Homo sapiens: one gene and its partners. The protein of the gene in region 1 purifies or fractionates together with the protein of each later gene. This does not show direct contact. Each region holds a gene or a part of one and is shown in the gene's direction. Other genes may lie near its edges.

Evidence for each region.
Region 2: the proteins of ARID4A (region 1) and SIN3B purify together in Homo sapiens (affinity purification with western blotting; 2 studies listed by BioGRID and IntAct, with this or other methods). This does not show direct contact.
Region 3: the proteins of ARID4A (region 1) and SUDS3 purify together in Homo sapiens (affinity purification with mass spectrometry; 2 studies listed by BioGRID and IntAct, with this or other methods). This does not show direct contact.

Annotation. Positions count from the first base shown.
Region 1 is NC_000014.9:58,299,767-58,309,780, forward strand, and holds part of ARID4A (AT-rich interactive domain-containing protein 4A), read left to right. Parts: intron 1-31; 5' UTR 32-88; coding exon 89-94; intron 95-1,813; coding exon 1,814-1,924; intron 1,925-5,177; coding exon 5,178-5,243; intron 5,244-6,255; coding exon 6,256-6,346; intron 6,347-10,014.
Region 2 is NC_000019.10:16,822,835-16,833,829, forward strand, and holds the start of SIN3B (paired amphipathic helix protein Sin3b), read left to right. Parts: upstream 1-6,563; 5' UTR 6,564-6,586; coding exon 6,587-6,706; intron 6,707-6,956; coding exon 6,957-7,063; intron 7,064-8,659; coding exon 8,660-8,813; intron 8,814-10,995.
Region 3 is NC_000012.12:118,407,539-118,417,552, forward strand, and holds part of SUDS3 (sin3 histone deacetylase corepressor complex component SDS3), read left to right. Parts: intron 1-3,534; coding exon 3,535-3,619; intron 3,620-6,796; coding exon 6,797-6,895; 3' UTR 6,896-10,014.

The DNA of each region.
Region 1 (10,014 bases):
TGTCTGTGCCTGTCTTTCCCCCTCCCCATAGTTCTAGCGACTGCGAAGATAGCTCGCTGAGCTGGAACCCCACAGATCACCAACAAAAATGAAGGTAAGTGGAGTCAACTCTGCCCCGATCCTCGCGCCCTGAACACTGCCAATCCTAAGGCTAGTGCCGTGGAATGTCATTTGTTTTGCTACTCAAAATTGATGTTCCTACTGATCAGCAGTTTCGGCATAGGAGGATGTGTTGAATGGGTGAAAAATGATCTGTGTGTCTAAATGCGGAGTTTAGGCCCTCTCTGTAGCAGTACTTTGGAAAGGCTGGTGCAGCCTTTCAATTGTTGTCCATTCGGATAGTATTTTTAAACACTTCCTGTGTTGGCAGCAACCTTTGCAGAAGTAAAGCTTTTGTCCTGCTTTGGTTCTTTGGGGGATTTTTTGTAAATTTTTTTTCTTCCCGTGTGCCAATGCGATTTTCTAAAAGAAAGAATACGTGGATTAAGTAATGAAGGTATCATTTCTTCTGTGTGTAAAATGAACTTATGTGGCTAAAATATTTGAAGTTGAAGTATAATAATAGTTTTAGTTAAATCTTTCCAATAAGTATTTTAAAACATATACTAAAAAGATACATATTCTACTGAGGATGACTGCAAATATCAGTATGTGGATGGTTAAAGGGAAAGGATCTCATATAGCGTTCTTGAATGCTGTGGCCATTGAATGTTTCAGGTCAGATTTTTGTTTGCCAAAAGCATTCCTATTCAATTTGTATTTTTTGTAAATGCACTTACTTTAAAAGGTACCCAATTCCTGTCTTATTTACTGTTTCAGCATATTAAGCTCTGAAATATAGCATTTTCCCAAACTTTCTCGTGGTTTTCTATTTTCTCGAAGTAAATGACATATTTAACCTTCTTTAATATTACTTGGGAAAACTTATTAGAAAACAAAAAATCATTTTCTACTTCAAAACGTATCTCCAAAGTGTACACTGTTAACTTTGCACTTAACAATGTTAAGTTGAACTTGTATGGATACACTTTAACTTCCGGAAAAAAAAAAAAAAGGTAAAATGACAGATTGAGATAGCAATCATCCTGTTACTGTAAAAATTAAAATGAGTGGTAGAGTGACATTTCTTACATCTTTCTATGTATCATTCTGGTCGTGTCCATTTGCTGAAAGTAGATGTTTCTTAGTAACGCTTATTTTTTTATACTAAGAAGATTAGTGTGGTAAACTAGGTATACCTACAAGTCTGGAGCCATCAGTTCATATCTGCATTCATCGGCTGAATTCAGACTTAAAACCTTTCAAGTGCAGCTTTTAGCAAATGAATTTTCCAAATGATACTTTCCTTATGAAAAGATGTTACCTTTATGTGGCTATGTCAATAAACAATTATGTATTGTTAGTGTTAATATTAGTAGCAATATTTCTTTTAATTTGAAAAATTTCAGGAAGCTATAAATGAATAACTTAGTTTTATGATATGTGTAATATGAAATATTTTTTCTGTTTTTTTCTTATCTTTCTGCTTATATAATAGTAGAATTTTTGAAAAATTTTGTATCGAGACAAAACATTATTAATCACTGATAATTTTGAATTACAACTTTAAAACATTTTATCATATCAGGACATCAGTCTATAAAATGAAAGGTTGCTAATCAAGTATTTAGGGTATTTTTCAAATTTTCAATGATATTAATAAGCAAGTCATTTTAATATTCTTAATGCTTCAAACACAACCTTTTAATGAGACTTGAGGTTGGAGTAGGGAGGCATAGTAATGACATTCACAGTTTTATGTTCCTTTCACCAGGCGGCAGATGAGCCTGCCTACCTGACAGTGGGAACCGATGTCAGTGCCAAGTACCGAGGTGCCTTCTGTGAGGCAAAGATTAAGACTGTGAAAAGGCTGGTGAAAGTTAAGGTAATATTTGTTTTTATGCAATAGTTTTATTAACTCTAGATTGAAGAAATTTGGGGAGAGAGAGACTGCAAATCAGCATTTTATTGAGTCATTATATGAAAACCCTTTATATACCAAACTTAAAGGAAAAGCACATCAAAAATAAAGAAATAAAAAACTCAAAAGGAGAAATTATTCCAAAATGCTACCATCAAAATACCATGCTCATGATATTTCCTGTCATTTGGCTCTTAACTATTTGTGGTAGCATACTTGGACTGTAATCTATTTTCTCCCCTCATTTAATGTTCAGGTAGAGACAATTTTAGTGTTTAGGACAATACAAATACAACAGGAATTATGTTTTCAAGACAGTGTAAAAAAGCATTTAAAAAGTTTATTTTGTGACTGGGCGTAGTGTCTCATGCCTGTAATCCAAGCACTTTGGGAGGCCGAAGTGGGCAGATCACTTGAGGCCAGGAGTTCAAGAGCAGCCTGGCCAACGTGGCGAAACCCTGTCTCTACTAAAATTGCAAAAATTAGACCCGGCGCGGTGACTCACGCCTGTAATCCCAGCACTTTGGGAGGCTGAGGTGGGTGGATCACCTGAGGTCAGGAGTTCGAGACCAGCCTGACCAACATGGTGAAATCCTGTCTCTACTAAAAATACAAAAATTAGCTGGGTGTGGTGGCAGGCACCTGTAATCCCAGCTGCTCAGGAGGCTGAGGCAGGAGAATTGCTTGAACCCGGGAGGCGGAGGTTGCAGTGAGCCAAGATCATGCCGTTGCACTCCAGCCTGGGTAACAGAGCTAGACTCCATCTCCAAAAAATAAAAAAATTAACCTGGCATGGTGGTGCACACCTGTAGTCCCAGCTACTCGGGAGGCTGAGGCAGGAGAATCGCTTGAACCCAGGAGGTGGAGATTGCAGTGAGCCGAAATCACACCACTGCACTCCAGCCTGGGTGACAGAGGGAGACTAAAAATATATATGTATATTTTTGGCTGTGTGAAGTGGCTCACACCTGCAGTCCCAGCACTTGGGAAGCCTGAATGGGGGGATTGCTTGAGCCAAGGAATTCAAGACCAGCCTGGGCAACATAGTGAGATCTTGTCTGTCCAGAAAAAAAGATAAAAAGTATTAGCCAGGTGTGGTGGCAGGCACCTGTGGTCCCAGCTACTCTGGAGGCAGAGGTGGGAGAATTGCTTGAGCCTGGGAGGTCAAGGCTGCAGTGAGCTGTGATTGTGCCACTGCACTCCAGGCCGGATGACAGGGCAAGACCCTGTCTCAAAAAAAAAATTTTTTTTTAAGATGCTTTTACTCTGAAATAACTTTTTTTTTTGGTGGTTCCTGCCAGTAATTTTCTTATATGAATATATTTTTAATAGTCTTCGTTACTTTATACTTAGATACCTCCTATGCTTATTATAAACATTTTTAACATTATAGAGGTATATCATATAGTTAATGAAGTCCTCCTTAAAAAATTTTATTTAAGTTGATGAATAATAATTTTACATATTCATGGGCTACATAGTCATGTTTTGATACATATAATGTATGGTGATTAAATCAAGATAATTTGCATATCTATCATCTCAAACATTTTTCATTTCTTTGTGTTGGGAATATTCAGTATCCTCCTCTTAGCCATTTGAAACAATGTGATATAGCATTGTTAACTACAGTCATCCTGCTGCGGTATAGAACACTGTGAAAGTCCTCCTTGATACGACTCCAAAGAGATTTGATGTGGTCTTCCAGATTTTTTTTACTGTGCCAGTCATAAAATTATTGTCATTGGTATTGGATCATGCTGTATTGCAGTTTGCTTTATTCACTTATATATCTGATGTTTTCCTACCAGAATTAAGCACCATAAAAGGAGGAAACGTCTGACTTGTTCTATGCCCAACACATAGAGTAGTGCCTGATACATAGTGGACCCTCAAAATTTGTTGAATGAATCAGTGAACTAGAGCAGTGATTCCTAAAGGGTCCCTCCAGACCAGCAGCATCAGCCTTACTTGGGAACTTGTTCCAAATGCAAATTTTCCCCACCCCAGATCTACTTCATCAGAAACTCTGGGGGTAAGATCCAGTAATTGTGTTTTAATAAGCCCTTTAAATATTTCTGATGCATGTTAAAAGTTTAAGAATCAGGTTGGGCACGGTGGGTCATTAATCCCAGCACTTTGGGAAGCCAGAGTGGGCAGATAACTTGAGGCTAGAAGTTTGAGACCCACCTGGCCAAAATGTTGAAACCCTGTCTCTAGTAAAAATACAAAAAATTAGCCAGACATGGTGGTGCAAACCTGTAATCCCAGCTACTTGGGAGGCTGAGGCACGAGAATTGCTTGAGCTGGGGAAGCGAAGGTTGAGACCCTGCCTAAAAAAAAAAAAAAGTTTGAGAAACATTGACTAGAGGAGTGTGATTTGTAGGTTAAATAGATGTATCTATGATTATTATAAAATTTATGTTTCAGTTTTCTTGATGAACCTTCAAGTATTAGGATAGGATGTCAATTGACATTCATTTCTTTTTGTTTCATACAGTGTTTTTATCATGTCAGCTATATAGGATTTGATTACTCTATATTTATTTGGGATTCTTTAACAATTCAAATTTGGTATTGTGGCTCTTATTTACTTAAAATTAATACAATGATTGTTTTAGGAGGTCTTACCATACATTACCTAGATTTTGAATTTATTTGGACCATCTATTATTTGGACCATAGTAACCAGCCATCTGTTACGGATGGTTACTTTATGTCTTTAGATGTGTAGTAGAAGGGAGCACTTGTTTGTATCAGTGCATATTACGATTATTGCTTAGCTTCACTTTATAAAGGATCAGAGTTCTGGTTTTAATTTGTTTACCTTTCATATAGGCAATACAGTTTGATACTGTTGTTTTTCTTTGTGTACTTGGTGGCAATCAGAACCTTTTGTGACTTGATAAAAAGCAATAAAGGCAGTTTTTTTTTACAGTAATCATTAAAGATTATTATATAGTTCATTTAGTAAACAGTTATTAAGTGCTGATAATATGCATTGACACTTGCTAACTGTTGGGGATATAGCAATGAAGGGAAGACTCAGCCCTCAAGGAGCTCACAGTTAATAAGAGAATGTAATAAGTATTACATTAGCAGGGGTCACCACATGGTGCTAAGAAAGCATAAATTAAAGACATTATTGTTATAGTGTTACTATAAATGTATTTGTTTTAAAAGTAATATGCAAATTATTGTGCAAAATGTTTTTCAGGTACTCCTGAAACAGGATAATACCACACAATTGGTACAAGATGACCAAGTAAAGGGTCCTTTAAGAGTATGTATGTTGTACGGTTTAAAATCTGAAATAATCATAGATTTATACCATATTTACTGAATTTACATTTCTACATAGACTTAACATTTTATGAGAACGTTAATCAGAAAACAATACATATGAAGGGTTTAAATATAATTAGTATAAATTGTGATATTGCAATGGCTGTATTCTGTTTTAGATACTAAACATCTTCTAGAAGGGTAATTTAATATATATAAACATGTTAAGTTTTTCACCTACCTTTCTGTTTTGAATTCTTGAACTGGATACCTGGCTTTGTTTTTCACATTGTTGCTGTATCTGAGGTGATGTTTAGCCTTCTAAGTTGAGTATCATAACCATCAATCTTTGGTTGTTCTAATTTACCAAGTAAACTATGTTCACTTCCTAATTCAATTTAATGAATACCTAGATTATGTTTTCCATGCATTTCTGGCCATTTGTTTATGTAATAAATCTGTTATATCAGAGTACCACTTTGGTTAATATCTGATATACAAAGGTCTGGAAACTGAAAGAAGGTCAACTGGTCCATCCCTATCTCTCCAGGTGAACCTTTATCTAAAAGGTACCTTAAATACAAATGCTGAATCCAATATTCACTATTTCTGTGAAAGAAAATGGATGCTATTTTGGTTGTCTTATAATTTTACAGTTCTTCGATTTAATTTTCTTGAAGGCAATGTGATATAGTGGAAAAGCTCTAAAGTAAGATTTAAGAGACTGGGCTGTCATGCTGGACTCTGCATATTATTTTCTCTTTCTGAACGGCAATTTTCAGTGTGTAAAGTAGGGGTAATAATAGCTACCTAACTTTTGTCAAAGTGTTTTGGAGCTCAAATTGCATAATAAATAGATAAGTACTATGAATGATAAAGATCTCAGACAGTGTAAGATAGAATTATCATAAGTATGGTGTTTATTTTTCTTAGCTAGATTATATAGTTGGTGGGAGTGATTTGGTTTATTTGTTTAAATTTGGTAAGGAAATTGGGATTTCACATTTTAGGTTGGAGCTATTGTTGAAACAAGGACATCTGATGGATCTTTTCAGGAAGCTATTATCAGCAAGTTGACAGATGCTAGTTGGTATACCGTGGGTAAGTAATTAAGTAATTTAACACAGATTTGATTTGGAGGTTGCATGTATCTGTGTTTTGTGGATACACTGAATCATTGTGTTGGTGGAGAAATATATATTATTTCCTGTCAGTTTACTGGATATAGCTGACTAAAATTCTAAGAATGCCCTGTAGGTAACAAAAATAATTATCTCTTACAGTAAGTTGGCCACTTTTGTCTATTTCATCCAAAAATGTACTTCTATTTTAGGTTACTTTGATGTTTCTTTTCAAGAAAGTTAGATCACATGATTGTGATCACTTTTTCTATAATTACAATTAAAATTGCATAGTTGCGATCGTTACTGTATTGCTACATATTTTATACAAGGGTAATGTAGATGTTGCCAGACAATTTACAGATTTAAAAAATCCTGACCATGGTAGATTCAAGAATAGGTGATTGTTAACTTAGTTTTTGATTTTTGATACAGTGTGGGTGCTCATATTAACAGCTTTCAAGGTCGGGCATGTTGGCTCATGCCTGTAATCCTAGCATTTTGGAAAGCTGAGGCGGGTGGATCACTTGAGGTCAGAAGTTCGAGACCAGCCTGGCCAACATGGTGAAACCCCGTCTCTACTGAAAATACACAAATTAGCCTGGTATTAGTGGTGCATGCCTGTAATCCCAGCTACTCTGGAGGCTGAGGCAGGAGAATCGCTTGAACCTGGGAGGCGGAGGTTGCAATGAGCCCAGATCATGCCACTGCACTCCAGCCTGGGCGACAGAGTGAGATTTGGTCTCAAAAAGAAAACAGCTTTTAAGAAAAATATAGATGCTCCTAATATGAATGCATGAATGCATTCTTAACATTCCATGCATAAGCTTATACTGGCTTTAGATAACTTTATTGTATTAATAGTGAGAAGCAACAAGTGTCATAATACTTGTAAGTTAAAACCTTAAAGTAGTACTTAAATAGTTGCTGTCATTATGTTGATGAGAATAGCATTAAGTAACATTTCCAAATCTCCTCTCAGTACTTTCAAACTGCACAATCCTGTGGATAACATCCAATCTATAGCATTGTTGGTTTTTATACTTATTTCTTGGTTTAAGTGGTATAATTATTTTGTGGTTTTCTTGTAGAAATAAAAGAATGACCATTTAGGTTTACTTTTAGTTTACTTGATTTGTTGCTTTGGGTAAAAATCATTCACATCCAGTTGATGCTCAGTGTTGTGAAGAACTATGCTTTGGTTAAAAATTTCTCTGTCTTACCCTGTACCTTCTATTAGTAGTACCAATTTGCTGTGTGTAAGTACTTTTTTCAAACCTCTTTGATGCTTCTTGGACTTACTAGAATTTAGTGTTGGTTCACAGTGGTGCTATTATTCTGAACTACATATTTTTAGGAAGCTTAGTTGTGGCTACTGATAGTTGTTAAATTTTAAAAACTAAGTGGCCAGATGCAGTGGCTCTAACCTGTAATCCCAGCACTTTAGGGGGGCGAGGTGGGCGGATCACCTGAGGTCAAGAGTTCAAGACCAGCCTGGCCAACATGGCGAAACCTTGTCTCTACTAAAAATACAAAAATTAGCTGGGTGTGGTGGTGGGCGTCTGTAATCCCAGCTACTCAGTAGGCTGAGGCAGGAGAATCGCTTGAATCTGGGAGGCGGAGGTTGCAGTAAGCCTAGATTGTGCCATTGCACTCCAGCCTGGGCAACAAGAGCAAAACTGCGTCTCAAAACAAATAAAAACTAAGCTTAATGTTAACTCTTAGAGATTAAGTAAATACATCTTTGCTTTATCAAACTAAGACCTGATAAAAATTACAGGTGTGTGTAGAATCACCGGAAAATATATGATGCATATTCAGATATTTATATTGCACCTTATATTTTAACTCACTATAAAGGTTGTACTCACTTTGAAGCTTTACTGATAAAATGCGCATGCTCTATAGAAGGATTACTTTTCAGGTTTTCTCATTTTGGGTTTCTTTATCCCAGAGTAGTTATTCAATTATGAATAGCAACCTTTGTCCTCTACATGAGTAGCGTTTTAGTGTTTCTAAAAACTAGTCACTGCTAAGCATTCTCTATGGTGATTTTCTGTGTTGGATAATTACAGAAGAAATTGTATAATTCTTGTTCTCAAAGAGCTTTAGAATCTTAATTGCATATAATTGAGGTATCAAGCATTAGTGGACATAAGAATCACTTGGTGCTTGCTTAGAAAAATGAGGATTTGAGGACCCCAAGCCTCTCCAATTAGTAGGCCTGGGGATGGCAGTACAAGAATGTTTTAATAAGCATGTCAGTGATTCTGATGCAGGTAGTTCACACTTATAAAAACAGGGAAAAACAGATTTATTTGGGAGAAAAATTCAAAATATTAAAGATTTTTGCACTTACGTGCATGAAGGAAATTCATAAAAAGATTTTGAAAGGCACTGTTCCATTCAGAAAACTCAAGATAGCACTGCTCTAAAGAACGTTTAGATATTGAAGGAAGTGGATCACATAAAGAATGATCAGAGTATAATGACCTGAGTTACCAGTTGGTTTAAAAAAAACAGTACAATGAAATGTAAAACCTCTTGGGTCATGAACATCCTGTATTTTTCTTTCAGTGAGTACCTACTACCTACCTATTAGGTGTAATTGCTCTTTTCTGGAATTTTTTTTGATTTCTAGTTCCTAGCAAAGTATTACATGGGTATAGTCAGAAAATTATTCAGAGTGTTTATGACGTGTGTTACCTTTTTTGGTTTCATGAGATACCAGAAATTATGTCAGATTATTAAAAATAAAACAAGAGGATACCACATTGCTGGTTTGGATCAAATAGGAGTTATGATCATTAGTGATCTAAAGTTATCATTAGAGTCAGTGATATTAACTTCTTCTTGCATAATACAGGTATCAATTTCCCTTCTGTTAAACATGATTAACCAATTTTGAAAGAGATTATGGATATAGTATGACTCAGTTTTTAAAAAATCTGGTAATATCTTACCCTCTAATGGTTTATTTCTTGTTTGTTTGTTCGTTTTAGAGACAGGATCTTGCTCTGTTGCCCAGGCTTTTGTTCAGTAGCACTATTGTAGCTTCCTGCAGCCCTGAATTCCTGGGCTCAAGCAGTCTTACCGCCTTAGCCTCCCAAAGTGTTGGGATTACAGGCATGAGCCACTGCTCTCAGCTTCCCCTTTAATGTTGAATAGTAAACAGCACCAACTCAAGGGGATTTTTTTGTTTCTGTTTTTTGAGCAATAGAAATATTTCCTCTTCCTACCATTCCTACCATAGTTTACTCATTGATAGTTGTTATCCTTGCCATTAAAGATAAGGAATCTGTAATATGTGGAAGTGTGTTATCTGTTCAGTCATTCAAAAGGTGTTAAAATTGGGATTAGAATTCATACCTCTATCCAGCCCAAATCTCTAGTTATGTTTTTTAAAAAAGGAATTAATATGTCCAGTTAAATGTTACCACTAACTCCTGGTAAATACAACTGTCAGTAAGACATTTTGAAGGTACTCTCTGTTTTGCCTTTTTGTAATATAAAAACATATACTTGAAAAGTAAGGAAAAGTTAAAGGATAGAAATTTCAGTAATTCTAGTAATTAACTTTGAAAATGTACACACACAGATCATTTATCAAGTTTAGCACTAAAATCTATCATCTGTATTAATGTTTTT
Region 2 (10,995 bases), on another chromosome or scaffold:
TCTCCTGCCTCAGCCTCCCAAATAGCTGGGACTGCAGACGTGCACCACCACGCCAGGCTAATTTTTTGTTTTGTTTTGTTTGTTTGTTTGTTTTTTGTAGAGAAAAAGCGATCTGTCTGCCTTCGTCTCCCAAAGTGCTGGGATTACAGGCGTGAGCCACCTGGCCTCCTTTACTTTCTTAAACTTACTTTATGGACTTGTCCAGAATTCTTTCTTGCATGAGATCCAAGAACTCTCTCTTGGGGTCTGGATGAAGACCCCTTTTCGGTAACAGTTTCCTCTTCCCCAAATGAAAGAGGGCCTTTGCTGATCATTTGAGAGAAAACAAATTTGAGTAGAAGCCACACTCCCTGTGGGGAGGGGCACACTGTGGGACAACTCTGTTGGCCCTCAAGGACGATGACTAATAGGTTGCTGATGTCAGAGGCATTTGAACCAGAGCAACAACATCTTGAATAGGGGCTGGGTAAAATAAGGCTGAGACCTACTGGGCTGCATTCCCAGATGGTTAGGTCATTCTAAGTCACAGGATGAGTTAGGAGGTCAGCACAAGATACGGGTCATAAAGACCTTACTGGCCTGGCGCGGTGGCTCATGCCTGTAATCCCAGCACTTTGGGAGGCTGAGGTGGGTGGATCACCTGAGGTCGGGAGTTTGAAACCAGCCTGACCAACATGGAGAAACCTCGTCTCTACTAAAAATGCAAAATTAGCCGGGCCTGGTGGTGCGCACCTGTAATCTCAGCTATTCGGGAGGCTGAGGCAGGAGAATCACTTGAACTGGGAGGTGGAGGTTACAGTGAGCCAAGATTGCGCCATTGCACTCCAGCCTGAATAACAAGAGTGAAACTTCGTCTAAAACAAACAAAAACAAACAAACAAAAAAAACCTAGCTGATAAAATAGCCTGCAGTAAAGAAGCCAGCCAAAACCAAGATGGAGACAAGAGTGGCCTCTGGTTGTCCTCACTGCTGTACTCCTACCGGTGCCATGACAGTTTACAAATGCCATGGCAACATCAGGAAGTTACCCTATATGGTCTAAAAAGGGGAGGCATAAATAATCCACCCCTTGATTAGCGTATCATCAAGAAATAACTGGCCAGGCGCGGTGGCTCATGCCTGTAATCCCAATACTTTGGGAGGCTTTGGTGGATAGATCATTTGAGGTCAGGAGTTTGAGACCAGCCTGGCCAACATGATAAGACCCCCGTCTCTAATACTAAAAATACAAAAATTAGCCAGGCGTGGTGGCACGCACCTGTAATCCCAGCTACTTGGGAGGCTGAGGTAGGAGAATCGCTTGAACCTGGAAGGCAGAGGTTGCAGTGAGCTGCAATCGCGCCACTGCACTCTAGCCTGGGCGACAGAGTAAGACTTCGTCTCAAAAGGAAATAACCATTAAAATGGGCGGCCAGGCGCTGTGGCTCACACCTGTAATCCCAGCATTTTGGGAGGCCAAGGTGGGCGGATCACGAGGTCAGGAGATCAAGACCATCCTGGCTAACATGGTGAAACCCCATCTCTACTAAAAATACAAAAAAAATTAGCCAGGTGTGGTGGCAGGCGCCTGTAGTCCCAGCTACTCGGGAGGCTGAGGCAGGAGAATGGCATGAACCTGGGAGGCGGAGCTTGCAGTGAGCCACGATGGCGCCACTGCACTCCAGCCTGGGCGACAGAACGAGACTCTGTCTAAGAAAAAGGGCAACCAGCAGCCCTGGGGGCTGCTCTGTCTATGGAGTAGCCATTCTTTAGTCCTTTACTTTCCTAATAAACTTACTTTCAGTTTACTGTATGGACTGGCCCTGAATTCTTTCTTGCGTGAGATCCAAGAACCCTCTCTTGGGGTCTGGATTGGGACCCCTTTCCCGTAACAGTGTCAGAGGTGTTTGAACCAGAGGAACCCCGACTTGAATAGGGGCTGGGTAAAATAAGACTAAGACCTACTGCACTGCATTCCCAGATGGTTAAAGCATTCTTAGTCACAGGATGAGATAGGAGGTCAGCACAACATACGGGTCATAAAGACCTTGCTGATAAAACAGGTTGCAGTAAAGAAGCCGGCCAAAATCTACCCAAATCAAAATGACCTCTGGTGGTCCTCACTGCTACACTCCCACCAGCGCCAAGACAGTTTAGAAATGCCATGGCAACGTCAGGAAGTTACCCTCTATGGTCTAAAAAGAGGAGGCATGAATAATCCACCCCTTGTTTAGCATATCATCAAGAAATAAATCATAAAAATGGGGAATAAGCGGCCCTCGGGGCTGCTCTGTCTGTGGAGTAGCCATTCTTTGTTCCTTTATTTTCCTTATAAACTTGCTTTCACTTTACAGACTCTCCCTGAATTCTTTCTTGCGTGAAATCCAAAAACCCTCTCTGGGGGGTCTGGATCGGGACCCATTTCCTGTAACACTGGGAGGCTTTGGTAAGAAACGGACTGTCCAGACATCTGGTGGCCACAGAGTGTTCAGTCTGCCTTCGCTGCTCTTCCTGGCTGGGAGCCACAAATCTTCCATGCTTTACTTTCTAAATACCACTCCCTTCCACCCACCGCTCTCTACTTCCACTGCTCCCATCCTGGTCTAAGCCACCATCGTCCTTTGCCTAAATGATGAAACAGCCTCCCTCCACCCTCCCTGGCTCCGCTCCAATCACTTTCCTGCAGAGCAGCCAGAGTGATCACTTTCAAATGCAAACCTGAACTTGCAGCTCCTCCGCTCAAAGCCCTTGGATGGTTTCCACCAGCGTGAATGCTAAAGCCTGAACTCAGTGCATAAGGTGCTGTGTGTTCCGCTCCTCTGGCTGCTCCGGGATTATCTTGTACTCTCTTTCTTCCCCTCCCTCTCTGCAGCCTGGGAAACTCGTCTTAAAAAAAAAAAAACTCTTGAAATGTACCATGCTGTCTCCCACCTCAAAAATCACAGCTGTTCGTGATTTTTCTCATGATGAATGCCTACGCATTCTTCAGATCTCAGCTAGAATGCCACCTCCTCTGGGAAGCCTCCCTCATCTCCTGCAAGACTGGGTTAGGTTTCCCTAGGTAACAGGTGGTATTTTCCAAAAATAGCCACAACATATTTCCTGTCCCACATGATACTCTTGGCCATTTGCCCTCCTCTTGAATTTAGGAAAAACTTTGTAACAGCCTGTATGGAAAGAATGCAATGGAAATGATTCTGCGTGACTTCCGAGTCTGGGTGAGAAAAGGTAATATGGGAGCTGGGTGCAGTGATGCATGCCTGTAGTCCCAGCTACTCAACAGATTGACGTGGGAGGATCCTTTGAGTCCAGGAGTTTGAGGCCAGCCTGGGCCAGCCTGAGACCCTGAGTCCCACCCCAACCCCTGCCATCTCCGGAAGAAGAAGAAGGAGAAGGAGAAGAGGAAGAAGAAGAGGAAGAGGAAGAAGAAAAAGAAAAGATGATATGATTCCCACCTGGCTCACACGCTCACTTGTTCTTAGAACGGTAGTTGTGAAGAAGCTCAGGCTGCAAGGAGACCACATGTAGGTATTCCAAGCAACGGCCCCAGCGAGGGTCTCGGCCTGTAGCCTGTAGCAACTGACATACATATGTGTGAGCAAACATTCAGGTGATTCCAGCCCCCAGACTTTGAGCCACCCAGCTGATGCCAAGGTTGAGTTATTCCTCCCAAGCCTGCCCAAATTGCAGATTGAAGAGTAAAATGAATGTCTCTTTTCTTTCTTTTTTTTTTTTTTTCAAGACAGGGTCTTGCTCTTGCTCTGTTCCCCAGGCTGGAGTGCAGTGGCGCAATCTCAGCTCATTGCAACCTCCACCTTCTGGGTTCAAGCGATACTCATGCCTCAACCTCCCAAGTAGCTGGGATTACAGGTGTGTGCCACCACACCTGGCTAATTATTGTATTTTTAGTAGAGATGGGATTTCACCATCTTGTCCAGGCTGGTCTTGAACTCCTGGCCTCATGTGATCCACCCACCTCTGCCTCCCAAAGTGCTGGGATTACAGCCATGAGCCACTTGCCCCGTGAATGTTGTTGTCATTTGAAGCTTCTAAGTCTTGAGCTGCTTTTTATTTTCTTTTACAGAAAGCCCAGACCTTACAATGTTTTTATTTTTTCTCTCCATTTTTCTTTCTTTTTAATGTTTTTGTACAGATGGGATCTTGCTATGTTGCCTGGGCTGGTCTCAAACTCCTGGCCTCAATGCATGCCCCCACCTTGGCCTCCCAAAGTGCTGGGATTGTCAAGGGCTCATTTGTTACACAGTCATAGCAACAGAAATTTAGGAACTGTTACATGTATACCTTCTCTTTAAAGTATTTGTTACATGTGAAACTTTACATTTGTGTGATTACTAGATTCCTGTCTATCCTGAGAGACTAAAAGCTCTTAACGGCCAAATTTGCGTTCCTTTTTACCATTCTATTCCTGACACTTAGCAAGGTGCCTGGTAAATGATGCACTCGATGCCAATTTACTCTCAACTTTCCTGCACCTCTTCACTTATAAAAAGAGAAAGCACTTGGTCATTAATTGAACGTTCACTTATTTGATGAATGCTGACTGAGAGACTGTGTCAGGGATTTGTATTAGAGACGGACACAAAACAAATATGAAATACAAGGGACTGAGGGGAGACATAGAAGGGGACTGGGAACACTTCCTGAGGGAAAGGGATATTTGGGCTGCGTTTAGAAGGATGTATAGGTGTTTTCTGAATAACAAAGAGGCATGACAGTACTTCTGGCAAAGGAAATGGTGAGTGCCAATGCTTGGGACCAGGAAGCAGCCAGGTTGGTCAGGCAATTGTGTGAAGTTCTGCACAGAGGCAGGCAGTTTGCTTGGAAAATCCTGCAGGAAAAGGTTCCTAAGGACCAATTCTGACAGCCTGCAATGTAGGTGCTTAGATTTCATCTCATTAGAAATAGGAAGACCTTGGAGGTTTGGAAGGAGTGGTGGAAAAAGTGGAGTTTTTTGTTTTTCTGTTTTTTTTTTTTTAAGAGATGAGATGCTCTTTAAAAAAAAAAAAAAAAAAAAGCACTGCTATGCTTCCCAGGCTGGGGTGTGCAGTGGCAAGATCATGGCTCACTGCAGCCTTGAACTCTTGGGCATGAGCAATCCTGCCTCAGCCTCCCGAGTAGCTGGGACTAAACGTGTGCACCACCACGCCCAGCTAATTTTTTCATTTTATTTTATTATTTAATTAATTAATTAATTAATTTTTTGAGACAGAGTTTTTGCTCTTGTTGCCCAGGCTGGAGTGCAATGGCGTGATCTTGGCTCACTGCAACCTCCGCCTCCCGGGTTCAAGCAATTCTCTTGCCTCAGCCTCCCGAGTAGCTGGGATTACAGGCATGCGCCACAAAGCCCGGCTAATTTTGTATTTTTAGTAGAGACGGGGTTTCTCCATGTTGGTCAGGCTAATCTCCAACTCCAGACCTCAGGTGATCTGCCCGCCTCGGCGTCCCAAAGTGCTGGGATTACAGGCGTGAGCCACGGCGCCCAGCCAATTTTTTCATTTTCTTTTTCTTTTTTTCAAGGCCCGGCTAATTTTTTGTATTTTTAGTAGAGACGGGGTTGCACCGTGTTAGCCAGGATGGTCTCTATCTCCTGACCTCGTGATCCGTCCGCCTCGGCCTCCCAAAGTGCTGGGATTACAGGCGTGAGCCACCATCCCCAGCCTAGAGTTCTTGATAGTATCAGGGCTGAGAAAGTACCAGAGTTAGAGCCAGGTGGGGTGGCACTAAAAGTACAAAAAATTAGCAGGGCGCAGTGGCGGGCGCCTGTAGTCCCAGCTACTCAGGAGGCTGAGGCAGGAGAATGGTGTGAACTCGGGAGGCGGAGCTTGCAGTGAGCGGAAATCGCGCCACTGCACTCCAGCCTGGGCGACAGAGCGAGACTCTGTCTCAAAAAAAAAAAAAAAAAAAAAAAAAAAAAAAGAAAGTACCAGAGTTAGGAGGCTCCTAAACTGGTCCAGATGGGAAGTGACGGGGCCAAGGATAGGGAAGTGAAGATGGGAGGAGTAGGACTAACTTAAAGGCCATTTAGCAAAAATTCACCACGCAAGGCCCTATATTAGGGCGCTGGGGGCTCATACCTCATCGTCCCGTCAACTCTATAAAGCAGGGGCCAACAAACTTTTTCCATAAAAGGCCAGATCGTAAATACTTCAGGGTCTGCAGATCTGTAGGATCTTTAGCAACTACCTACTCTGTTGTAAGGCGAAAGCAGGCAGAGAAGCCAGGTAAACGCGTGGGCGTGTCTGTGTGCTAATAAAACTTTATTCAGGGACCCTCAAATGTGAATTTCACAAACTTTTCACAGGTCATAGACTATTCTTCTTTGGATTTTTCCCCCGGCTATGTAAACATGTAAAAATAATTCTGAGCTTGCGGGGCCGGACAAAGTAGGCGGCGGGTCTTGGCTCGCCTACCCCTGCTATATAAATCATTAATTATGATACCAATCTTAAGGAGAAGGTCTTCAGAAGAGTCCCTCAAAGAGCACCGCCCCTCAACGTCATCAAACCCCGCCTCCAAAGGCGGAGGCTGCGCATGCGCGGCAGGACCTCGGGCGGGGGCGGGGCGGGGCGCAGCTCCGACTTCGGACATGGCGCACGCTGGCGGTGGCAGCGGTGGCAGCGGTGCCGGCGGCCCCGCGGGCCGGGGGCTGAGCGGCGCCCGCTGGGGTCGCTCGGGCTCCGCAGGCCACGAGAAGCTGCCGGTGCACGTGAGTGGCGTCCCCGCCCTCCCTCGGGGAACCCATCTTCTGGACCCCGCGGGCGGGCGCCCCTCACCCAGGCCCCGCCCGGCCCCAGCCCCACCTCGGCCTCCCCTCTGCACTGCCCCGGACCCCTCACCCCTCACCTCTCACCTCGGCCCTCCGAAAGCCCAGCCCATCCCCTTCCCCTCAGGGACCCCGGCCCCTCGTCCCCTCGTTCCGCGGCCAGGGCCCACCGGGACCCTCCCCCTCTCTGCAGGTAGAAGACGCCCTCACCTATCTGGACCAGGTGAAGATCCGCTTTGGCAGCGACCCTGCCACCTACAACGGCTTCCTGGAGATCATGAAGGAGTTCAAAAGCCAGAGGTACCAGCGGGGCCCCTCTCCACCTCAGGGGACCCCCCTGGGCCGGAATCGGGCCTAGCGGGGTGAGACCTCCCCTCTCCAGCCTGCCCCCTTAGCCGGGTGACCTTGCGCAGGTTGTCCAATCTCTCAGAGCCCTAGCTCCTTCTCGTAACAAAAATGGAAATGGGTAGTACCCACCTTGTGGAGCTTTGTGGGGATTCCTGGAAGCAGGACAGGGATCTGGGGGGAGGCAGGGAGGGCGAGGCCGTGCACACTCATAGAGTCAAATCCTGCCTTGATTTAATATGTTGATTTTTATATTAGTTTTGTTCATGAAAGATTTGGTGGGACCCATTTTGATTTTTATTTTCAAGCGCTGTAAAATGTTATTGTCTTGATGATTGAAATTTTTGGCACCCTCTTCCCCTTTAATCTTGTCCTCAAGATGCTTCTCTGGGCTCACTGTGGTCCCAGGCCTGCTTGGAAGTAAGACGCATAAAATGCTTAGTAAGGGAGCTGGCACACAGAAAACGTTTAAAACACATGAGATGATTTTGCAGGCCCAGAATCAAGGAAGATTACAGATAGATGGGAAACCCTGGGATCATGCCCTTGTTTTTATAGGAGACTCACTGAGGTTTGGAGTGGGTAAGGGACCCACCTAAGTGGCAGAGGTGTCACTAGAACTCAGACCCTCTGACTCAGATTCTTGGAAGTCACATGCTTACCATACTGCTGCCCCCTCTTAGGAAACATGGTGGGGCTGGCCTGGTTTCCTTCCGGGAGCCCAGTGCTAAGGGCTGGGCTGCAATGCAGCCAGAAGGGAGACCCCATCTCTCCCCTCCTATTTTTCTTACACCTTTCCCATTCTTGGCAGTACCATTGGTATTTATGCATTGCAATTGTTTGCTCAGATGGAAACCTGTGTCATAGTCATCTCTATCTGATACAAAATGAGGGAAGTTTTCACATTGCTTAGAGGACTTTGGCCTCCTGCCATTTCTTGGAGTCCAGGCCTTGCGGTTGGCTCTCCTGACATTTTCAGAACCGAGTACCCATTCTTGGAGTGTTTTAGGGGAGCTGAGCGATGTCAGTATTCTCTGGTTCTCACCAGGAGGGAACAGGGAGCTCAGGCCTAGCCAGTCAGGAGATAGGTCATGGTGTACAGATGCTATCACATGGGGGCACTTTTTTTTTTTTTTTTGAGATGGATTCTCGTGCTGTCGCCCAGGCTGGAGTGCAGTGGTGTGATCTGGGCTCACTGCAGCCTCCGCCTCCCGGGTGCAAGTGATTCTTGTGCCTCTGCCTCCTGAGTAGCTGGGACTGCAGGCACGCACCACCACTCCAAGTTCGTTTTTGTATTTTTAGTACAGACAGGGTTTCACCATGTTGACCAGTCTGGTCTCGAACTCTTGACCTCAGGTGATCTGCCTGCCTCGGCCTCCTAAAGTGCTGGGATTACAGGCATGAGCCACTGCGCCTGGTGGGTCACATTTTAGGTTCCTTTGTTGTCTGTTGAGAAGGTTTTTATGTGGCAGTATCAAGGGAGTGGGGAATAGATTATATTTTTCATTTATTTCCCAAGACCCTTTTGCCCACTTCCGTTGTTTCTTCTAGCATCGATACTCCTGGAGTCATCAGACGTGTCTCGCAGCTCTTCCACGAGCACCCTGACCTCATTGTTGGATTCAACGCTTTTCTTCCCCTCGGATATAGAATAGACATTCCCAAGAATGGCAAGTTAAACATACAGTCGCCTCTGACAAGCCAGGTATGCCACTACAGTGGTTCGGGTGATCTCAGCCTTCACCGAGTATGTCTTGCTACTCAGGTTGGGCCACGTGTCTCTCCTGTATCATTGCTAGAAAGCCACTTAAGATCTGTTCTTTTTCTAGACGTGCTCATTGCTTCTAGCACAAATCAAAATAGATATGGAAACACCTACACAAGCAGCCTCTGCCTCCCAAATTGATCTGTTTGGAAGATTTAAATCAAGAGTGGATGTCAGGGAGGTATCCTCCTAACGCAGAATTTTGTGTGAAGTCTAAATAACCACCTCAGCAGTTGCTGAGGTCTTGGCTTGAGGCTTTCCCAGCGAGCATACCAGGCAGGCTTGCCCTTGTATTTAAGCATGTCCTCGTCTGCCTCTGATCACTCTCAGTACCACCTACAAAATAAAGTGGTCGAGATGGTGTGTGAGTAGCCACGTTTATGTTGGCTGTGTTTCATTTAATTGTTGATAGGATCATTAGCTCAGCTGGGACTCCTGGCTTTGCTTTGGTCCCTTTTTTCTTGGGTGATAGGTGCTGGCCCTCTTTTTTTTTTTTTTTTTTTTTTTGGAGACGGAGTCTGGCTCTGTCACCCAGGCTGGAGTGCAGTGGCGCAATCTCAGCTCAGTGCAACCTCCGCCTCCCAGGTTCAAGCAATTCTCCTGCCTCAGCCTCCCGAGTAGCTGGGATTACAGGTGTGCACCACCATGCTTAGCTAATTTTTGTATTTTTAGTAGAGATGGGGTTTCTTCATGTTGGCCAGGCTGTTCTTGAGCTCCTGACCTCAAGTGATCTGCCTGCTTCAGCTTCCCAAAGTGCTAGGATTACAGGCGTGAGCCACCGTGCCCAGCCTCCTTTTTTTTTTTTTTTTTTAAGACAGGTTCTCACTCTGTTGCCCAGGCTGGAGTGCAGTGGTGCCATCATATCTCACTGCAGCCTCAACCTCCTGGGCTCAAGTGATCCTCCCGTCTCAGCCTCCTAAGTAGCTAGGACTACAGGCGTGCACCACCACGGCCAGCTAATTTATTTATTTTTTTTGTAGCGACAGGGTCTCACTATGTTGCCCAGGGTTGGTCTCGATCTCCTGGCCTCAAGCGATGTGCCCACCTTGGCCTCCCACAGTGCTGGGATTACAGGAGTGAGCCACTGTGCCTGGCTCACTGCCCCTTCTATCTCTGCAGTCTCTTCATGCTTGAGCTTACTAGCGCCTCTGAGAAAAAGAAAGCCTACTTAAGATTTCCTTTTATAAGATGACCATTGTCATTTTTTCCACCTCAACACTATTTCCCATTTAAGGCATAATTCTTTGCTGTTGGGGGCTTCCCAGTGCATTGTGGGGTGTTTAGCAGGATCTGTAGCGTGTACCTACCAGACCTTCACTCAGTTCTGACAGCCAGAAATGTCTCCAGACATTGCCAGGTGTCTCCCTGGGGGGCAAAAGTGCCCCTGTTGAGAACCACCGGTGTAAGTGGACCAGCTCTCCCAACCTCCTCCAGTCCTTGCCTCGAGAGTTTTAGCAGGGAGTGTCAGAATCTACTGCTGGAAGCACTTGGTAGGTCTTCTTTGATGGAAGAGATGATAGAGCGTCCAATCAATTAGGGATCTGACACTCCGCAGTCAGTTGGAAAGAGAACAGCGAAGGGTAATGTGGCAGTGCTTTTGTATTAATTCCATGTGCAAGGTGTGTGTCAATTCTGCTGCTTCTCGGCCAGGCGCAGTGGCTCACGCCTGTAATCCCAGCACTTTGGGGGGCCGAGATGGGTAGATTACAAGGTCAGGAGTTCAAGACCAGCCTGGCCATCATGGTGAAACCCTGTCTCTACTAAAAGTACAAAAATCAGCCAGGCGCAGTGGAGCATGCCTGTAATCCCAGCTACTTGGGAGGCTGAGGCATGAGAATTGCTTGAACCTGGGAGGCGGAGGTTGCAGTGAGCAGAGATTGTGCCACTGCACTGTAGCCTGGGTGACAGAGCAAGACTCCGTCTCAAAAAAAAAAAAAATTCTGCTGCTTCTCTGTGCAAGACCCTCTCTGCCATCAGCCTGTTGTCTCCTGAAAGCCAAGGAGCGAGTCTCAGGGTTTTTTTTTTGCCTTTTTTGAGAAGGAGTCTCGCTCTGTCACCCAGGCTGGAGTTCAGTGGCGCAATCTCGGCTCCCTGCAACCTCCACCTCCTGGGTTCAAGAGAT
Region 3 (10,014 bases), on another chromosome or scaffold:
TGTTCGCTTTTAAGTCAGTTGAATTTCTTGGGTTTGGGTTCTAAGTACCACTGAAGGAAAATACAATGCATCTCATGAGAATTGTTGGAATAGCCTTCCAGAGTCAGCTGTTTTCTTTAAAAGACCTTTGTGAGGATATGATACATGGATACACATGTAACATGTATATGTGTTATTTTTGGTTTTTTTTTTTTTTTTGAGACAGAGTCTCGCTCTGTCGCCCAGGCTGGAGTGCAGTGGCGCAATCTTGGCTCACTGCAGACTCCGCCTCCCAGGTTCAAGCGATTCTCCTACCTCAGCCTCCTGAGTAGCTGGGACTACAGGCACACGCCAATATGCCTGGCTAATTTTTTGTATTTTATTTATTTATTTATATTTTTTGAGACAGAGTCTCGCACTGTCACCCAGGCTGGAGTGCAGTGGCGCCATCTCAGCTCACTGCAACCTCCGCCTCCCGAGTTCAAGCTGTTCTCTCCCTCAGCCTCCCAAGTAGCTGGGACTACAGGCACCCGCCACCACGCCCAGCTAATTTTTGTATTTTTAGTACAGACGGGGTTTCACCATGTTCGCCAGGATGGCCTCTATCTCCTGACCTCGTGATATACCCGCCTCGGCCTCCCAAAGTGCTGGGATTACAGGCGTAAGCCACTACGCCTGGCCAATTTTTTGTATTTTAGTAGAGACGGGGTTTCACCTTGTTGCCCAGGCTGGTCTCGAACCCCTGAGCTCAGGCAATCCACCCACCTTGGCCTCCCAAAGTGCTAGGATTACAAGCATGAGCCACCATACCTGGCCAGTTTTTTTTTTTTTTTTGAGACAGAGTCTCGTTCTTCCAGCCAGGCTGGAGTGCAGTGGCATGATCTCAGCCCACTGCAGTCCCTGCCTCCTGGGTTCAAGCAATTCTTGTGCTTCAGCCTCCCGAGTACCTGGGATTACAAGCGCACACCACCATGCTGGCTAATTTTTGTAATTTTAGTAGAGATGGGGGTTTCACCATGTTGGTCGGGCTGGTCTTGAACTCCTGACCTCAAGTGATCCACCCACCTCGGCCTCCCGCAGTGCTGGGATTACAGGCGTGAGCCACTGCACCCAGCTGTAACATGTGTATGTTTTATCATAAACACAGGAACATAGTTGACATAGTTTTTTTTGGTTTTTTTTTTTTTACCTACCAGTATATGGAGCATGTTTCCACACTCGTAATATTCTACACCACATCCATGACCTTTCTTTATTAAAGTGTTTAGAAAGTTGTATCAGAATGACTTGAGGGTAGTTGCATTTTGTTTTGTGTCTTTATCTCTTTAATAACTTACAGTCCCTTTAGAACAACTGTGAGTATTCTCCCTCTGTATTTTTATTTTAACCATTACTCAAGACATGACTGTTTACATAGGAGAGCTGGCTCAGATGTGAGAGAGAAACAAGGGGAAGTGTTAGTGTTAGTATGAACTTAGCCTTTTCTTATGCATTGTACAGTTCGGCCCTTGTGATAATACATATTTAGCATAATGAAGGTCCCCTGCCAGTTTACCAACTAATAAAGGGCCAAAAGCAACTTTAAAACTTGCATTTAAACCATTCTCGCTGTTCTAATTGAATTTAAAATTCTTTTTTTTTTTTTTTTAAGATAGAGTCTCGCTCTGTTGCTCAGGCTGGAGTGCAGTGGCATGATCTTGGCTTGCTGCAAGCTCCGCCTCCGGGGTCAAGCAATTCTCCTGCCTCAGCCTCCCGAGTAGCTGGGATTACAGGAGCCTGCCACCACTCCCGGCTAATTTTTGTGTTTTTAGTAGAGATGGGGTTTCACCATGTTGGCCAGGCTGGTCTCGATCTCCTGACCTTGTGATCTGCCCACCTTGGCCTCCCAAAGTGCTGGGATTACAGGCGTGAGCCACCACGCCCGGCCTAAAATTCTGTTTCTTTTAACAGTATTTTCAGAAAGTACATTGACTTGGAAACCTGAGTTTTCAGTTCATAAGTAGCAGGTTAAAGAGAATTGAGACCCTAGACTGGAAAAAGCTCATTATGGGAGTGAAGTGCATCCTTTACTTGCCATGTCTTGGCAATAGGTTATTTCCTTATACCAGCAAAACAGAATAAGCCATCATGCTTTGCTGGGAGATGTGTTTTACTAAATTTACACGAGTTTATGGGTCTGGTTAGCCAGATCTTTGCAGCCAAAATGAACCAAAGTTTATGTTATTAATCGACGTGGGGCTGGCCCAGGCCAGGGTTGCTAGCTGCAGCTCCGCTGATACTTCCAACTCTTGTAATCCAGCAGGGGCTCCTTCATCCTGTGGCAGCTGCTTTTGTCCCATTTGGGCTTTGGCCCCCAGCAACTTCACTTTCATCCTTGGCCTTGTCTCTGAACTTGTAGAAATAAGAAGTGGCCCTACACTACAGGTTGAGAGTAGATGCAGGAGTTGAAAGGGGAGTGTCTGTCTTATCTACTGTATTCAAAGCAGCTTTCCCAACTGTCCAGGCCAAATTAGATACCCTTTGGTATACGTCATGGCACTTGGAACTTTGCCTGATTAGCTGTTACCAGGTGTGGTTATTTAATGTTCCTTATCCCCAGTGTATTTGAATCTCTGTGATAGTGGAGAACTTGTGGCCTTTCTCACTGTTTGTCCCCAGCCTCCAGCATAGTCCGTGGTACACAGTAAGTGCTTAATGAGTATTTTTGAATGACTGACTAAAGGGTTAAAGTCAGCCTTCCTTCTTGTTGGTGACTGACTTGGACAAATAGAAAATAAATAACGGTGGCTTATGCCTGTATATTTTGTCTGTCCAACCTTCTTCAGTGTTCTGGTGTGGGGTCAGAAAGGGGAAACAGAGTTTTTATTTAACAATTTTTAATTTACTTTTTGAACTGGGTCATATAGTCCAAAAAAAGGGAAAAATACATAGTTTTCCAACACTTTCCTCAGCCTTTTCCCTTCTGTAGAGGGACCAAGGAATATAAGCTTTAGATCCCAAAGAAGATTAGGTGGTCTTCTAACCTAAGGATGGAAGCCTTTATTTATTTATTTATTTATTTATTTTATTTATTTATTTATTTATTTATTTATTTTTTGAGATGGAGTCTTGCTCTGTCGCCCAGGCTGGAGTGCAGTGGCGCCATCTCGGCTCACTGCAAGCTCCGCCTCCCGGGTTCACACCATTCTCCTGCCTCAGCCTCCCAAGTAGCTGGGACTATAGGCACCTGCCACCATGCCCGGCTACTTTTTTTGTATTTTTAGTAGAGACGGGGTTTTACCGTGTTAGCCAGGATGGTCTTGATCTCCTGACCTTGTGATCCGCCTGCCTCGGCCTCCCAAAGTGCTGGGATTACAGGCTTGAGCCACCGCGCCTGGCCTCAGGATGGAAGCCTTTAAATTAAGCTAAATGGGAAATCCAGGCTATTCCTCAAATGTGAATTATTAAGACTTCTTTAATTATAATTTTTGTTGTGATGGTGTTTTTGTTTTGTTTGGTTTTTACTTCCTGTCTCTGTCCCTCCCTTTTTAAAAATGTGTGCCTTGTTTTTGTCAGGTACCACAAGAGCCAGGCCATCTATCTGGAGTCAAAGGACAACCAGAAACTGAGCTGCGTGATCAGTTCTGTAGGAGCCAATGAGGTGGGAACCACACTCCCTCACCTTTAGGGAAGCAAAATGTGTACTGCGAAGTGTTGGTAGGGCAAACCTGAAATGAAAGTGCCACCAAGGAAGTACAGTGGAGTACTGTCTTCTATGTGGGTTAGATTCTAAAGTCAGGCAGAAATTGCACATTGTCAAAATCATCCTTGAAAAGTCCTTACATTCGCTTGACTACAACATATGCGGATTTGTCTATTCCATGGGGTATTTGTGAACTCCCGGTACAGCTACTGATTTGGGAACCACGGAGCTAGATTCCAGGAAAGAACAAAAAGCAAGTCTGTGTGGTGTCTGTACATTCAACTCCTGCTTCTTTTTTTTTATTTTTATTTTTTTTGAGACAGAGTCTCACTCTGTTGCCCAGGCTGGAGTACAGTTGTGCTATCTTGGCTCACTGCAACTTCCACCTCCCAGGTTCAAGTGATTCTCCTGCCTCAGCCTCCTGAGTAGCTGGGATTACAGGCACCCACCACCACGCCCGGCTAATTTTTGTATTTTTTTTTAAGTAGAGATGGGGTTTCACCACGTTGGTCAGGCTGGTCTTGAACTCCTGACCCCGTGGTCTACCCAGCTCGGCCTCCCAAAGTGCTGGGATTACAGGCGTGAGCCACCACACCTGGCCAACTCCTGCTTCTTTTTAAGGTAACCATCTACTGAGAATGGAGCTTGACTGTGGAGCATACTCCATCTTGGTTTTGTTTCTCTAGAACTTTCACACATACCAGTAGATTTGTTTCTTGCTGTGAGGATTGAATGAGGCACCTGGCACAGGGTCTAGCACCCAGTAAGTGCTCACTAAGTGAGTGCTGGCCTGAAACGACCCACACGCCACTTGCCTGCCGTCTTTCCTAGCTGAGATGTCCTATTGTGCTTCAAAACAAGTTGCCAGGGTTATGCCCTTGGTTTTTGGTCTCCTCGAGACACTCCTTTAGGATGGATGGGGTCTGGTTTTAAAGTCAGCTCAGAGGGTTATACCTGAGGATGATATGACTGCCCTCTGAGTTCTCCAAGTGGTCTTTCATGAGGAGTATATAAGCAATGTGTAACTTATGTTGTTAGTTAAAGTTAAAAACTTTAATAGCTGGATTGGCTTGATCTTTTATCAGTCCACAAATGTCTGCAAAGAAATTGATTTCTATGTGTCTGCCCTCTGTAACTTATTCGTGCCAGTGCACAGTAAATGTAATGAAACTGGATTATGAAGTAACTTAAGCCTCTTCTATTCTTCCAGCTTCCTGAATTGAAAATGCCCTGAAATGTGACTAGTTTGCAAAATGATTGTTTACTTAGAAGTTAGGGAGAGCCTTCTAGATAAATGAATGCCATTCTTCTCTGGGCTGAGGATCCGTGTGAGTCCCCTCAAGCCAAGTCAGAACCAGAACAGGGAAGCTAATAGAGAGACCTGGTCCTCAGCCAAGAGGTGTCACGATTTCATGGTAATCATTTGCACCTGGCTGTCTGGGTTGTTCCACAAGCACATGTGGCCTTCTAGTACCTGACCCTAACTTCAGAACCAGTGCATTATTCTCCTCTATGATACCTCAAGATTTTTCAGAAAAATATAAATGCAAGTTAGATTGTTTTTCCCCTCTCTCTGCCGAATATTGTCGCGTCTTGACATAATAGAGTGTCAGTGAGATCTGACAAATGGTGACACTGAAACACGTCTTCTGGAGGGGAGAAGCTTCAGTGCACTGAAGACATGCAACTCTGGCAATGGGGAAACCGTTCTCATTTCTTGAAAGTGTTCCAGCTCATTTTTCAGATCAAATTCTAGGTGACACTGGAGCTACTTGGCTTTAGCATAGCTTGACTCCAAGCAGGTTTGGTGGGTAGCTCTGAGTGTGTGGATGACTCCCTGACTTAGCTTTTCTTGGGATCAGTTTTTCATTTAAAATGATTCTGCAAGGTCCCTTGGAGGCTTAGCTTCATGTGAGGTCTTTAACTTTTTAAATTTTTAAGCCAGTGTATTTGACTTTAAAGCAGTAGAGATACTGCTGAATAATCACATTAAAGAAATTGAGATGAAACAGAATAAGCTTTTTTAAAACCTGAAAACTGAGTCCAGGAAGGAGGAGATAAATCTGTAAACTTGTATATTTGGGTGAGATGCAGACCTTTCAAAAAACTGTGCTTTTGGCTCTATTTAATTGCATGTTACAGAAAAACAGGCAAGAAGAAGCCAGAGACTGCTTTAGTAGAGAAGAGCCAGGGGCTTTGATGTCAGACACCAGAATTCACGTCGTGATAAGTGACTCAGCCTTGCTGAGCTTTGGTTTCCTCTTCTTTAAAATGGGGCCAATGATAGTAGTTATTTCATAGGGTTGTCTTGCGGGTGAAAAAGCTCAGCCTGATCAGCATGGTGTCTGGCACACAGAGCTCAGTAACCCTGGCTCAGGGGGTCAGGTGACTGGCAGCAGCTCCCCTTCTCACCCATGGCTTTAGGATGCCCCTTATTGAGTGCACTTTGTCAGCCCTGGCAGTCCCCTGTTGCAAGAGTTCATTCTCAATTCAATGGAAGAATGCATCTGCCCTGTAAAATGCACTGTAATCTAATACTGTCTGTGAGAGGGGGATATGGTGAGGAGGGAAGGACTCTCGGAAGTGCTTCAACCTTCTCATGATCCTAATTGGGCCTTAGCTCATTAGTGGGCATTTTTCTATTGTTGATATTTTTTCCCTGTTTTTCTGCACAACCATTAGCCTTCATTGCCAGGAAACCAAAGTATTGAAAGTTTGTATAATATGGAAGTCCCTTGGAGCAAGGAAAATACTTCCAAATTTGAAAGTTTGTGTTTATGAATAGATGTCTCTTGAGTGTTGATAACACAGTAATCAAACCAAATTTAAAAGCATCTTTAAGATCAAGGCAGAAATGGAACCCAAGATTGCTGTGCTTTCCATTTTCGTAATCACAGGTGTGAGAGAGATGGCTGAGAAACGAGTTCAAGGCTGATGCCTGTTCCCAGCGGCATGCCTTTAGATGGCCCGAGGTCAGGGGTGCTTATGAAGCCCTCACAAGTTGAGACAGTTTATTCCAGCAAGAGGCTACCAGCCTTCTGCTTGCATCTCACTCGTGCAGATATTTTGATGGTGTAGGAGATTTGCTCTTCTGTATTTAACTTTTCATCTTGTTCCCTTTCCTCTCCCCTGCAGATCTGGGTGAGGAAGACAAGTGACAGCACCAAGATGAGGATCTACCTGGGCCAGCTTCAGCGCGGGCTCTTCGTGATCCGCCGGCGCTCAGCTGCTTGACTTTCTACAGTGCTCTTCTCTTGACCCTTTTTCTGGAGTGGGTTTTATTTTTGTTTTGTTTCGTTTTCTCCTTAATAGAAAAATGTTAACTTACTGGGAATAGCTACTCAGCCTTGGAAATGGAGAGCACTGCAGTGAATTCTTTAGGGCACTTTTGTGGCCGGATGCTTCCAACTTTGTCAGTCTTTTCTGCCTCAACTTCTTCCAGACATCAGTCACCATGAGACTGTTTTACTTTCAGGCGTATTGGGGGGTTTGATTTACTTTCCTTTTATTTCTTTATTTTTTGCTTATACTTGTTTTTGAAAACCTCCTCTGAGTTTGAAGGGACAGCTATTTTTATTGATTATCTTTAAGTCTCTCTACCATGGAGAAGAGCAGGAAGGGATACACTCTCCAGTGCATTTTCATGTTTTGAATCTGATTAGTGGATCACGTAGCTACTTTCCCTGTCGCGTCCAATTCACTATTTGCCCAGAAGCTTGGGGCAGAGGTCCTAGCAGGAGATGATGAATTCTCGTGGCTCTCGGCCTTCTCAGAGAAATAAATGCTTTGTGTAACATCTGTGCACACCATCCATTCCGCTCGCTGAGCGATGGAAAAGCTTGCCTGGAAGACTATGTGCACTGAAGTAAATGGGGTTGGGGGAGGGGACATTTCATATTTATAATGTGCTGAAGGTACCATATTTTAAATGTTATTTAATGCAGGTGATTTATTCAAACATTTGTTCTAGCTTAAGCTGGAATAAGCAGTGGTCATTTCAGAAGTTTTCATTTGTAATTCCTTCCTCTCCCTTGTTCCCAAGTAGGTAGTAGTAAGTATGTGCCACAGGCTGATTATCTGGGTAATCTTTTACGGGTGGGAGGTGAGATTGATAGTGCAATAATCAGTGATCTATAGACCCTCATGCACGATTCAAGTTTCACTCTTGTGGCTGATGCCATTATTGCACATTGGCCATTCCAAACCTGTGGAGAACTTTGTTGTCAGGCCCTGAGCGCTCACAGCTTCATTTGGCCCAGGTTGAAGACAAGGAAAGCTCTGCTGTGGCTGCCTCTGGACTGACACCCTCCCTAATGAGTCCTGATGAAACAGCCTTTCCTACATCCTTCCCTCACTCCCATGATTGGAGAAATGATTCATTGGGTGATGAGTGTTGGGGTTTTCTATACTCATGTTGCCATCTTGAGATGTTCAAAAAATTTGGGGTTAGAGCAACTGTTAGCGTCTCTATGAGCAATCAGTAGAACTTACACATCCTAGGAAATCTTTCTTTGTAAGTAATTCTTTTGGTCTCAAGTGATTCTCTTCATGTTGTCTCTTGATGTACATACCCCCAAGCAAGTTGGGGGGACTGTGATGACAATTAAATCACCTTCTCTGAAGTTCTGGCTCTGCAGAGACCAAACCTTACTGACTTGTACAGACTTGTACAAGTAAAGACTTATACAGATAGATTTTTGTTTTAACTTACAATCCGTTTTTTCCTCTTTTTTTTTTTTTTTTCTGGTGTTGGAGTCTTATTTAGAAAACAGGATAAATGACGCTGTTATCAAAAGTTGCCTGGGGTTCTGTATTTCTTCTCTGCCCTCCAATCCCCGACTGCTATGATGTTTACTACAGTGAACCCAGCCCATGGTAAACACAGGCTTCACCTGTTCTTGTTTGTTAGCCTTGACTGTGAGGCAGGACTTCCCTCGCTTGAACTGTTACACATACGATGTGTGTGTCACATCACATATTGTGCAGCTGTTGGTTTTCATGTAGTGCCCTGCGATGGAAATTAGATATATTTCATGTATTTTTCCATTGAAGGTGGAGTTTTTCAATGATCATGTGTTTTGTCCTCCTAAACAGTATACCAAAGTTTGTTTTTATAGTTGAGGATTGTATTGATAACCACTGGGGTTCCGCATTGAAGCAGGAACAAATTGCCTCTTTTTCTGGCCTTCTCTGTGGGACCTCTGCTTTTGTGAAGCAACTATTTATTTGAAGACCAGGGTATGGGCACTTTTGCCTTCTCTCCTCTCTGACTTTTGAGGGTATTGAGGGCGCCCTTAGTCATAGTCTCGACTCCGCCATTGCCTTCTCCTCGGCGTCCTCACAACTCTTAATTGGGCCTAGTGAAAATGGGGGCAGGTGAGAAGTCCATTTTGAGAATCAGCATAGTAAATTACATTTCTAATCCCAGAGGACTTAATATTTTCTTTTGTCACCCCAGAGGTGAAAAATCAGCAGTTGAAGCCTGACAGGCCTCAGTGGTGACCAGGAACAGAAGCAGCCTTCCTGTTAGTAGATGGGGGTACTTCTGTGGTGGGCAGAAGCCTTACTAAAGGGGAAGACAGACTTTGAAGTTTCTAGACGAGAAGGAGGCTAGCTTCTAGCCTGGGTGGCCATTATTCCAAAAGGTCATTGTTTCTCACTAGACCCCAGGGCACCAGATGAATTTCCAAGTTTAAACTCTTTCCTGCAGGTGATTACTTTGAAAAAGGTTGGTCCAGACCATTTTGATCAAGAACCTGTATATGTGTTGTGTTAGAGGCATCTGCCTCAAGTCTATGTACAGTGTTTGCTGCGGGTGTGTTCCAATATTCATTTTACCTCTGCTTGGGGGTTTTGTGTGTTCCCCTCCCCCCATGCCCTGCCTACCCCCTTTTCCCTGAACCACGTCCTTTTGAATAATTTCCAGATGGATTTCTGTAGCCATACCAAAGCCAGGGTGTTTTCATTCATGCGGATACTAGTATTTATAGATGTCTGACTACCTAACTTAATTTTTGTTTTTGAACTTCTAATTGGGGCCAGTGTAAGGTCGATCCCAGAGGCTGATCTGCAAATCAAGCTACATGTATTTGTGTATAAGACCCTGTGTTCAGGACTGGGTGACTTTTCTAAGAAATATGGGGTTTAGAATGGGGTTGACTGTATTTTTTAACCTAATTCTGGAGAGAAGATTGTATTTTTTACAGTTTTTTGGGTTTGGCTTCCTTCTCACATTTCTTTAGCTTTGAATTTTTACTAAATAAATTTCCTCCTGATTAATTTTTTTTTTCTCATCTGGGAATTTGAAATCTCGGTGCTTACTGTTACACCAATTTGTCCAAAGAGTTGAAATC